Linked DNA regions of Homo sapiens: region 2 is linked to region 1. Evidence: fine-mapped expression QTL. A gene starts in region 1. The other region holds a variant in brackets. All regions are shown on one strand. Distances are between the middles of the regions. Region 1 holds the start of SAMD3 (sterile alpha motif domain containing 3). Region 2 overlaps SAMD3 (sterile alpha motif domain containing 3).

Evidence for each region. PIP is the estimated chance that this variant, and not a neighbour inherited with it, causes the effect.
Region 2: its variant is the best candidate, but not a certain one, in a credible set for the expression of SAMD3 in whole blood (INTERVAL, PIP 0.59).

What each region holds. Positions count from the first base shown.
Region 1 is chr6:130,220,040-130,225,425 of GRCh38, forward strand. SAMD3 (sterile alpha motif domain containing 3) reads right to left here and starts at 2,912. Exons shown (of 12, transcript NM_001017373.4): 1 at 2,655-2,912. RefSeq lists an enhancer at 3,519-3,628.
Region 2 is chr6:130,148,848-130,154,233 of GRCh38, forward strand. The region is part of intron 9 of SAMD3 (sterile alpha motif domain containing 3); the gene reads right to left. Among named protein-coding and RNA genes, the nearest start is that of SAMD3, 71 kb to the right of the region's middle. RefSeq lists an enhancer at 3,798-4,418. The variant A/G (reference allele first, on the strand shown) is at 2,640.

The DNA of each region.
Region 1 (5,386 bases):
CATCCAGACTGGAGTGCAGTGGCACTATCTCGGCTCATTGCAACCTCCACCTCCCGGATTCAAGCCATTCTTTTGCCTCAGCCTCCTGAGTAGCTGGGATTACAGACGCGTGCCACCATGCCAGGCTAATTTTTGTATATTTAGTGGAAATGGGGTTTCACCATGTTGGCCAGGTTGGTCTCGAACTGCTGAGCTTGTGATCCACCTGCCTCGGCCCCCCAGAGTGCTGGGATTACAGGTGTGAGCCACTAGCCTGGCCAATTTTTACATTTTCAAAGAAACTAAAGAGCCACTTATCTGGGAGGTTTAGTTAAATTAATGAACAAAAATAGCAATGAGCCAGAGTCCCAGAACTTTGGAACTTTTGAGTCACAAACACCCTAGTGTTTTGGCCTTTGAGTCAAACTTATGGTTTATCCCTGCTTCTGCCTCGTTGACAGCCAAAGCTTATGGTTCAGCAACACAGATTACAGTCCTGCCAGAGATGGTAACTGTGAACTGTGCTATTGAATTTTATGAAAAGCTGGATGTGTGACTGAGAAGTCTTGATAGTTTGAAGATGTCATTTCCCTCAGAATTAATTTATAAATTCCAATTAATATACATACGTGGTTATATGTTTTACTTACTATGAGGCTAGTTTTCATGTGGAAGAATAAATAGGTAAAAAGAACGAAAAATGCTTGACAAAAGGACTTGCACTTCCAGATGTTAAAAAATGTTATGCTATTAACAGCATGGTACTGGAGGAAAAGAGAACAGATATTGAAACAGAATAGAAACTTAGAAACAGAAACATTCATATGGAAGTACTGAAAATATCTTTTTTTTTTTTTGACAGTCTCGCTCTGTTGCCCAGGCTGGAGTGCAGTGGCACGATCTCGGCTCACTGCAAGCTCCGCCTCCCGGGTTCATGCCATTCTCCTGCCTCAACCTCCCGAGTAGCTGGGACTACGGGTGCCCACCACCACGCCCAGCTAATTTTTTTGTGTTTTTAGTAGAGACGGGGTTTCACTGTGTTAGCCAGGATGGTCTCGATCTCCTGACCTTGTGATCTGCCCACCTTGGCCTCCCAAAGTGCTGGGATTACAGGCATGAGCCACCACGCCCAGCCAGTGAAAAGATCTTTAAAATTGGTGACAAAGAAGGGATTAGTCAATATATTTTGTTGGGATAATGCCTCATAACACCTACACAATAAATTCCTCAGATAAGTTAAATATGTAAATATGAAAAATTAAAAAGAGTTTAAAATAATCTAAGATTACATAATAAAAATAAAATATTGATAGATTTGACTAAAAAGGAAAAACGCATGTGTACACATATATATCACAGTGGACCCTTGAACGACACAGGGGTTGGGACGCTGACTCTGCTATGCAGTTGAAAATTTGCAAGTAACTTTTGACTACCCCCAAACTTAACTACTAATAGCCTACTATTGATCAGAATCTTAACTGATAACATAGACAATTAACACATATTTTGTATGTTATATATATTATATACAGTACTGTTACAATAAAATGAGTTAGAGGAAAGAAAATGTTATTAAGCAAATAACAAGGAAGAGAAAACATTTACTATTTATTACATGGAAGTGGATCATCATAAAGATCTTCATACTCGTCGTCTTGCAGTGAGTAGGCTGAGGAGGAGGAGGAGGAAGAGGAGAGTTGGTCTTGCTGTCTCAGGGGTGGCAGAGGCAGAAGAAAATCTGCATGTAAGTGGACCTGAGAGGTTCCAACACATGTTGTTCAAGGGTCAACTCTATAATCCATAAAACCAACTAAAAAATTAATACACCAATAGAAAAAAATAGGAATAGGTAACTCTTGAACAAAATTTTAAACCAGTATCTGAAAAATCTACATTATTTGTAATAAAAATAATTAAATACCATCTTCATTTATTCCATTGGAAAAGGTGAAAATTAGCAAGAATGCAAGGTCAGTTGTTCTCTTACACACTGCTAAGGGGAGTATAAAGTGGCACAACTTGCCCTGTCATATTATTCCCATTTTATAATTGAAAGTCCTGGAGTTTACAGGGTAACTCGCCTAAGGTTCCTTTGCTTGTAAAGGTAAAAGTGATTTGAATCCAATCTATCCAACTTTAAAGGGTACTAATGCAAGCCAAAAACATTAAAAATATTTCTACATTCTGACCCCAAAATAGCATTTCTAAGAATGTGCCTAAAGACATTAACAGAAATGAACACAAAGATGTGTGCCATAGCAATGGTCCGAATAGCAAATAAATTGGACAGATAAAATTTCCAGCAATAGGAATTGGCCAATGAATTACAGTAATTTATATTTAAAATAAAATACTATGTAGTAATCAAAAATTGTATCTAGACAAATAACTATGTAGAGAGAAACAGTCATGGATATGGTTAACTGCAAATAAATTTAAAATAGTATGATTCAGATTTGTGGAAAGAATAAAATAAAAGTAGAATGAAATGCTTGGTTACACAAAGGCTGGGAAAGCATATACTAGAAGGCAGAAGTGGCAATCTCTGTTTGGAGGAATTAATGTTTTTTGTTTGTAATCTGCCACTCTTAAATTTTTCTCAATGAAAGAATTTTATCTTAATATCAGAAAAGTTAGAGTTTTATAGAGAAAAGGTAAAAAGTGATATTTACGGATTATTGCTGGAGAGGCTTTTGGTCCATCTCTTCCAGAAGAGAAGATCAAAGGAGAGAGCACCCCTCCTCCCCAGGCAAATCCGATCAGTGGATGTGGTTCTGGTTCCTTTGTTTTATCTGAAAAATGGAAGATATCACCTACAAATCTGGAATCTTGGTTTCTCTTGAAAAATCAAAAGTTCTGGTGATACTGGGTTCATATTTCTGAATGGCAGCAACTGAGCAGTGGCTGCCCCATTGAAAGACAGCAAGACTGGGAGCCTCACAGTACACAGGAAGCATAAGGTAAGTTTGAAACAGGGTGGATCTCAGACAGCTAACGTTTGCACCTCTCAAAGGAAGAAGATTCTGACAAGTGTGACAAATACCCATGTATGTACATACATGTTTACCATAATATATCTTTGGAACATTTAATTCTTCCTTAGTTACCTTTTTTAAGCTCCTAGAAGAAATAACACTAACTAGAAAAAAAATTTCCTATATCAATCTTAAGGCAGATATAATAATAATGTATTAGAATTTAGACATTGAATTCAAAGTCAAGGACTCAAAGCTTTGCATCTCAGAAGGTTCTAGTGTCTTGAGGCTTCATTTTCTTTGTAGCTACATCATTGAACTAAAATGCACAAACCTTTATTTAGCAGACATTGGCTGAATGTAATTCTCGTTACATAGCTCAGTGTGTACGTGATAGTGCAGGTGATAGCTGAACATTTTATAGCTCTGAGTAGTGGCAAGAACTTACATTATTAAAATATTACAACTATTTTTTTGGAGTTACTCATTTGTTAGAACACATGAAAGGTGACTTCTGTATCCACCTATATTGCTCAGCTGGTAGAGTCAAGCTGGGCTCTCTTGATCTGTTAACACTAAGTGCTGGTCTGACTTTGTAGGCCTCTTCAGGAAGAAGGGGATGCAAGGTAGTGGATCTTCTTAATGCAGTGTGACTCAAAGTGAAACTTGGAAACACCCTTGCAGGGCGTGCGATGGGTGTGACTCGCTTCTTCAGTACCCTGCAGCTCAAACCCCTAGAGGGAGCATGCAGACGGGCAGGTCATGGGGAGCATGGGCTCCTACCCCATGGCAGCACCTAGGGTTGAGTGTTTACAGCTCCAGAAGCCCCAGTGGGAGTGTGTTACAGTGCAGTCTTTCAGCTTAGCCATCCGCAGGTGGCTTGTGTTAATCAGCTCAATTAGATCCTCTGCCTTATCGCAAGGACAGAGGGCTTTCTGTATCCCAAGGTTCTTGCCTTAATGTACCAGAAAAATTGAATCACATGTAGGCTTGGAGAATGGGTGCACAGTTTTATTGACTGGTGGAAGTAGCTCTCAGCAGATGGATGGGATCCACAAGGGGAATGGAATGGGAAGGCGGTCTTCCCCTGGAGTCAGGCCGCTCAGTGGCCTGACTCTCCTCCAACCACCCCCAGGCAAATTCTACGTGGTCCACATCATACTGCTGTTGATGTCCTGCCAGTCTGTCAGTGTATTCTGCCAGTGTGTTCCTCTTGATGTCCAGCCGCTTGTGTCTGTGCCCGCTAGGGTCTCAGGGTTTTTATAGGCAGAGGATGGGGGTGTGGCGGGCCAGAGTGCTTTTGGAAAATGCAACATTTGGGCGTGAAAACAGGAGTGCCTGTTCTCACTTACGTCCATGGGTACAGGCCTGAGGGTGGAGCCCTAGCCAGGGACCCCATTCTTCTCTACCCAGCACTTCCCTGCCCGCCTCCCGTATCAAAAGCAAAGCACAGATGGGAGGTGTGGAGACACAAAAAGGCATAGGACCCTGTGTTTCTCATGAGTGACAAATGCTCATGCTTCTGCCAGCCCTAGGTTCATGTGAGGACGGGCCAGAATGTTCAAACTTTTGTTTATGCAAAAGCACTCTATTTATTTATTATTATTATTATTATTATTATTATTATTATTATTATTTTTGAGATGGAGTCTCCCTTTGTCACCCAGGCTGGAGTGTAATGGCACGATCTCAGCTCACTGCAACTTCCACCTCCTGGGTTTAAGCGATTCTCCTGCCTCAGCCTCCTGAGTATCTGGGACTACAGGCACGTGCCACCACGCCCAGCTAAGTTTTTGTATTTTTAGTAGAGATGGGGTTTCACTGTGTTAGCCAGGATGATCTCGATCTCCTGACCTCATGAACCGCCTGCCTCGGCCTCCTAAAGTGCTGAGATTACAGGCATGAGTCACCACGCCCAGCCCGAAGCACTCTTTTTAGAGTTGGCCCAAAAGGTAAAATTCATACCAATTGGTAGGCTATAGTCCATCATTAAATATGAGTCTGTGTGTCTGAATTTGTGTGTATGTGTGTGTGTTAGAGAGAGATAAAGAGAGACAGACAGAGACAGAGAGCAGTACTGAGCAAGAGAGTGAGTGAGCATGGGGAAGAAAGTAAGGAGGAGAGGAAAAGGTTATGTGAATGATTAACAAGTAAAAAATAATGTTACTGAAACACCAGGGGTTCAGTTTAGGTCCTGCTATTTGCTGCACAGAAAGCCAACGACTGAGACAACAAGTATTGCCAAGGAAGAAGGCTTTAATCAGGTGCTGCAGTCCAGGAAATGGGAGCTCAGTCTCAAATCCATCTTCCTGATCAACTAAAATTAGAGGTTTATATAGCGGGGAAGAAATGTTAAATATGTATGGGAAAACAAGAATGTGGAAGGAGTAAGGGAGCAATTACAATGAATGAGAGGCTGGTATCTCATT
Region 2 (5,386 bases), 71 kb before region 1:
ACAGAGAGACTTTCTCAAAAAAAACCCAACCAAAAAAAACCAAGATTTCAGCCCTGGTGTGCAACTTGCTACGGAGATGTTATTGCTTTAGACTTTCTCATAGAAGAAATCTAGGAAATGTTTGAATTTACATAAACAAAGGCACCCGTTGATCCAGAAACACCAATAACTATATATGTAAATATTAAATAGCCATACATAAAGACTAAAACCATGAATTCACATTGATACTTTCAATTCCAAACCAATACCACAGGGCTTTTCCTAACCTTCCCCTTCCCAAGCTTCTAACTCTCTTCAACAGTGAGATTCCTGGCTCCCATTATATCTCAGTGTATTTACTTATGAGCACTAACATCTGTGTAGCCAAGCTCCCAGCTGTGAATGGTCAGCCACAGGAAAGCCTCCAACACTTATACACTGCTAGTGGGAATGTAAATTAGTTCAGCCACTGTGGAAAGCCGTTTGGAGATTTCTCAAAGAACTTAAAACAGAGCTACCATTTGACCCAACAATCCCATTACTGGGTATATACCCAAAGGAATATAAAGAAAGACGCATGCACACATATATTCATTGCAGCACTATTCACAATAGCAATAACATGGAATCCACCTAGATGCCCATCAATAGCAGACTGGATAAAGAAAATGTACATGTACACCATGGAATACTACATAGCCATAAAAAAGAATGAAATCATGTCCTTTGCAGCAACATAGGTGTAGCTGGAGGCCATTGTTCTAAGCAAATTAATGCAGGACTAGAAAACCAGATACTGCATGTTCTTTCTTATAAGTGGGAGCTAACCACTGAGTACACATGGACACAAAGAAGGGAACAATAGACCCCGGAGTCCACTTGAGATTAGAGGGTGGGTGGAAGGTGAGGATCGAAAAACTACCTATCGGGTATTATGCCCGCTACCTGGGTGATGAAATAACCTGTACACCAAACCCCCACGACATGCAATCTACTTATATAACAAACCTGCACGACGTATCCCCTGCTGAACCTAAAAGTTGGAACAAAAAGAAAGCCCCCCTTTTCACAACCCCAGATTATGTCCTACAAATTAATCATCTTAATCCTTTTTCTTTCTGTTACTCAGACTGGATAATTTCTATTAATCTATCTGCAGATTCACAGCTCCTTTCTTTTCATTTTCCAATATGCTTTTAAGCCTACGCACATGGTGATGTTTTCATTTCAGATAACTGTTCTTTTCAGCTCTGAATTTCAATTTGGTTCATGTGTGTGTGTGTGCGCGCGTGTGTGTGTGCGTGTATTTCATTTCTCTGCTGAGATTCCCTATGGTGATGATACATGGAATTTACTGGTCTTATCCTGTTCCCCACCGTCCTGTCCTGAAGCAGCTGGCTTGCCAGACTGGTGGAGTGGCCTGTTGAAGACTCAGTTACAGCACCAGCTAGGTGGCAATACCTTGTGGGGCTGGGACAAGGTTCTCCCAGGCTGTATAAGCTCTGAATCAGCATCCAGCATACAGTGCAGTTTCTTCCATAGCCAGAATTCATGGGTCCAGGAACCAAGAGTTGGAAATGGGAATGGCGCCGCTCACTGTAACCTCTAGTGATCCACTAGTGGGGAGTCTGGATTAAATTATGTTCCTTTAAAGGGTGTTAAATTTTGTTCTGATAGGCAGATAAATTATGGTGGATCTTCTGGTCCTGTCAGACTTGATTTTATCATTTCTTTCGGCAATTCTGTTTTGTTGTTTGTCCTTAGTCCTAGCTAAGGTCCTGGCTCAAACTTAGGCATGGTTCTCACTCATGAGGCATTGTTTTCTGGAGTCTCAGATGAATGCTGAGGTGTTCTGCAGGGTCTCTACACACTGGGCCAGAATTCTTTTTTTTTTTTTTTTGAGACAGAATCTCACTCCATCGCCCAGGCTGGAGTCCAGTGGCACAATCTCGGCTCACTATAGCCTCTGCCTTCCAGGTTCAAGCCATTCTCCTGCCTCAGCCTCCTGAGTAGCTGGGATTACAGGTGTGTGCCACCACACCCGGCTAATTTTTGTATTTTTAGTAGAGACAGGGTTTCACCATGTTGGCCAGGCTGGTCTCGAACTCCCGACCTCAAGTGATCTGCCTGCCTCAGCCTCCCAAAGTGTTGGGATTACAGGCGTGAGCCACCACACCTAGCCTGAATTCTTATTAGCAACACTGTGTGAAGTCTCGGCTCTCAGCCAAGGATCCCCAGGGGATCCGTGTGTAGACTTCGGCCCAGCCCACTTTCCTCCAGTGCCTGTCCTACAAAGGCCAGCTGCTTCATCATTCCTCAACTTTAATCTCTTCCTGTGCAGCTCCATGAGACCTCCGCATGCTGCTTGCCTCCCACCATTCTGTACAGTGAGCTAGAAAGTAACCCATGCACAAAACTGAGGCACATCTTATGTCTTTCCGTTACCAAGGATCAGGGTCCTGCATTGCCTGTACCTTAATGCCTGAGTGCAGTTGCCTCATACATATTTTTTTTTTCCAGCTTTATCCATGTTAACAGTGGGAAGACTAGACCAGTACCAGTTACTCCATTTGGGCCAAAACCAAACTCAAATTCTTTATTTTTTAAATTTATTTATTTATTTATTTTTAACACGGAGTTTCACTCTTGTTGCCCAG[A/G]CTGGAGTGCAGTGGCGCAATCTCGGCTCACCGCACCCTCCGTCTCCCAGGTTCAAGCGATTCTCCTGCCTCAGCCTCCTTAGTAGCTGGGATTACAGGCATGTGCCACCACGCCCGGCTAATTTTGTATTTTTAGTAGAGACAGTGTTTCTCCACGTTGGTCAGCCTTGTCTCGAACTCCTGACCTCAGGTGATCTGCCCGCCTCGGCCTCCCAAAGTGCTGGGATTACAGGCATGAGCCACCATGCCTGGCCGATTTTTTTAATTTTTTGAGACTTTATTAGCTGGCGATTCTCACGTACTTCACTTAAAGAGATGATGATTGAAATTGTTTCTCAGGAAGGCAGAAACTATGGCATCTGAAAGGATTTTTTGGAAAATTTGGGGAAGGGTTTCAGTTTGTGTTTGGTATTTTCCTTCTCAACTCCCTCCTACTTGTCTTGTGCAACATCCAGTAGATCCCAGTAACACATTCCTAGTTGATAATATTTTAGATAATCTAATAAAGTAAATGGTTACATTCTGAATTTTTAAATGCCTTGTTGAAAGAAAGTTTTTTGAGGAAGGAGGTTAATGAGCATGGAGGTGATGGGGGGTCAGTGTTAACAGCCAGGACCACCGCCCACCCCGGCTGCTGCTGTTCTGCCACCCTGTCTCCACCAGCTCCCTAAGCACTCAGTGTTTTCACAATGGCAGGAGCAACAGGCGGTGGGGGTGGTTTGGTGCAGGGACAACTGTCCTCTTACGGGATCATTTGTTAACTAGGTATTTGCGAGGTCAAACTTGCTTTTATTTTAGGAGGCACACAAGAGTTTTATAAATTGGAAATCCCAGCTGCCTAGGGCTGAGTCAGGGAGGTACTTCCTGGAAAAACCGAAAATGATTCGTTCTTTTGTCTAAAACAATCAGGTCGGGCACGGTGGCTCACAGCTGTAATCCCAGCACTTTGGGAGGCTGAGGCAGGTGGATCACCTGAGCTCAGGAGTTCAAGACCAGCCTGACCAACATGGTGAAACCCCATCTCTACTAAAAATATAAAAATTAGCCAGGCGTGGTGGCGTGCATCCGTAGTCCCAGCTACTTGGGAGGCTGAGGCAGGAAAATCACTTGAACCTGGGAGGCAGAGGCTGCAGTGAGCCAAGATTGTGCCACTGCACTCCAGCCTGGGCGACAAAGTAAGACTCTGTCTCAATAAATAAATAAATAAATAAATAAAACAATCAACAGGCAACTCTATTCAATAAGTACAGTCATTACAAAAACCATACTCCATATTTTGGATATAAAGGGTGAAATACTTGAGGAATGGTGCGGAAGATACACCTATGCCACAGCAGGAGGCCTGGACAAAAGCACAGGGGACAGCATCAGGTCTGAAATCTCTCTGCTCCTCACATAAGCTATGACAGACCTCCACCTTACTGTCACCAATGGTTCTTTGAAAAGCTGCTTAACATAGTCCATTTATATTCATCACTAAGCCTTTGTAGGCCACACTCCAATGAAGACCCCTAAGGCTACGACATTAGTGATCACAACAGCCTTACCAACCTCCACTAATTCACTCAGCATTCACAAAATCAAGATTACATTGCTGTGTCACACGTGGTGCTCTGCTAGGCACTTTGGGAACTGTTAATATTAACACGTGCTCCCTACATGTAAGGAGTGTATAGACCGTAAGTTTGACAGGCTTTTGCTTTAAAACTGTATTTTGCAGATGTGTCCATTTGGCATACTTTTCTAACAGCCAGAGATGACTGGCTATTACAGTTCCTTACAACCTGAAGATTAAGGGGAAACAAGCGAAAGCCACAGTATGGTTGCTGAGAGGATTAGGTAGATTAATCCGTGGAAAGCACTGAGAACATGCTGTTACAGAGAAGCATTCAGATATTTGCTACTTATGTTTCTATTAAAATAATACAGGCAATTCTTATTTCCCTTTGCTCAGAAGAAAAATATGTAGATGTTTCATGTTTAATTTGGTTAATTGAATACATAGAATTTCTCCATGAAATATGTTCTCGGGTAAAACCTTTGATGATCTTTCATTATATACCACCACCAAAAATTACACTAAAATTGTGAAAGAACCTTGAATGGCCACTCTAAGTGAACTAAATGGAAGGGTATTTGATTGATTTACCCATTAAATTTCATATATATATATATATATTTATTTATTTATTTATTTTTTAAAATTTGAGACAGGGTCTCACTGTGTCACCAAGCTGCAGTACAGTGGCTCAGTCATGGCTCACTGCAGCCTTGACCTCCCCAGGTTTAGGTGATCCTCGTGCCTTAGCCTCCCAGAATAGTTGGGACTACAGGCACGCACCACTAAGCTGGGGTAATTTTTGTACTTTTAGTAGAGATGGGGTTTTACCAGGTTGCTGAGGCGGGTCTTGAACTCCTGGGCTCAAGCAATCCACCCACCTCAGCCTCCCAAAGTGCTGGGATTACAGGCATGAGCCACCATGCCTGGCCCTAAATTTCATATATATTTAAGGACACTTATGAAATTATTTGGGATCATAAAGGAAACGTATTTTTACTAAGGATGCATAATAACAGTTCCTTAATAAACTACCTTGATTACATAAAAGCATGAAAGGGAATAATGATTCACACTGTCAAAATACCCCTAAGTGATGATCCGCCACCCTCCACAATATGTCCAATGACAGAGAACTCTTTAGTTCTGAAGGCAGCTGGTGCCTATTATCTGAATATGCTACTGAAAT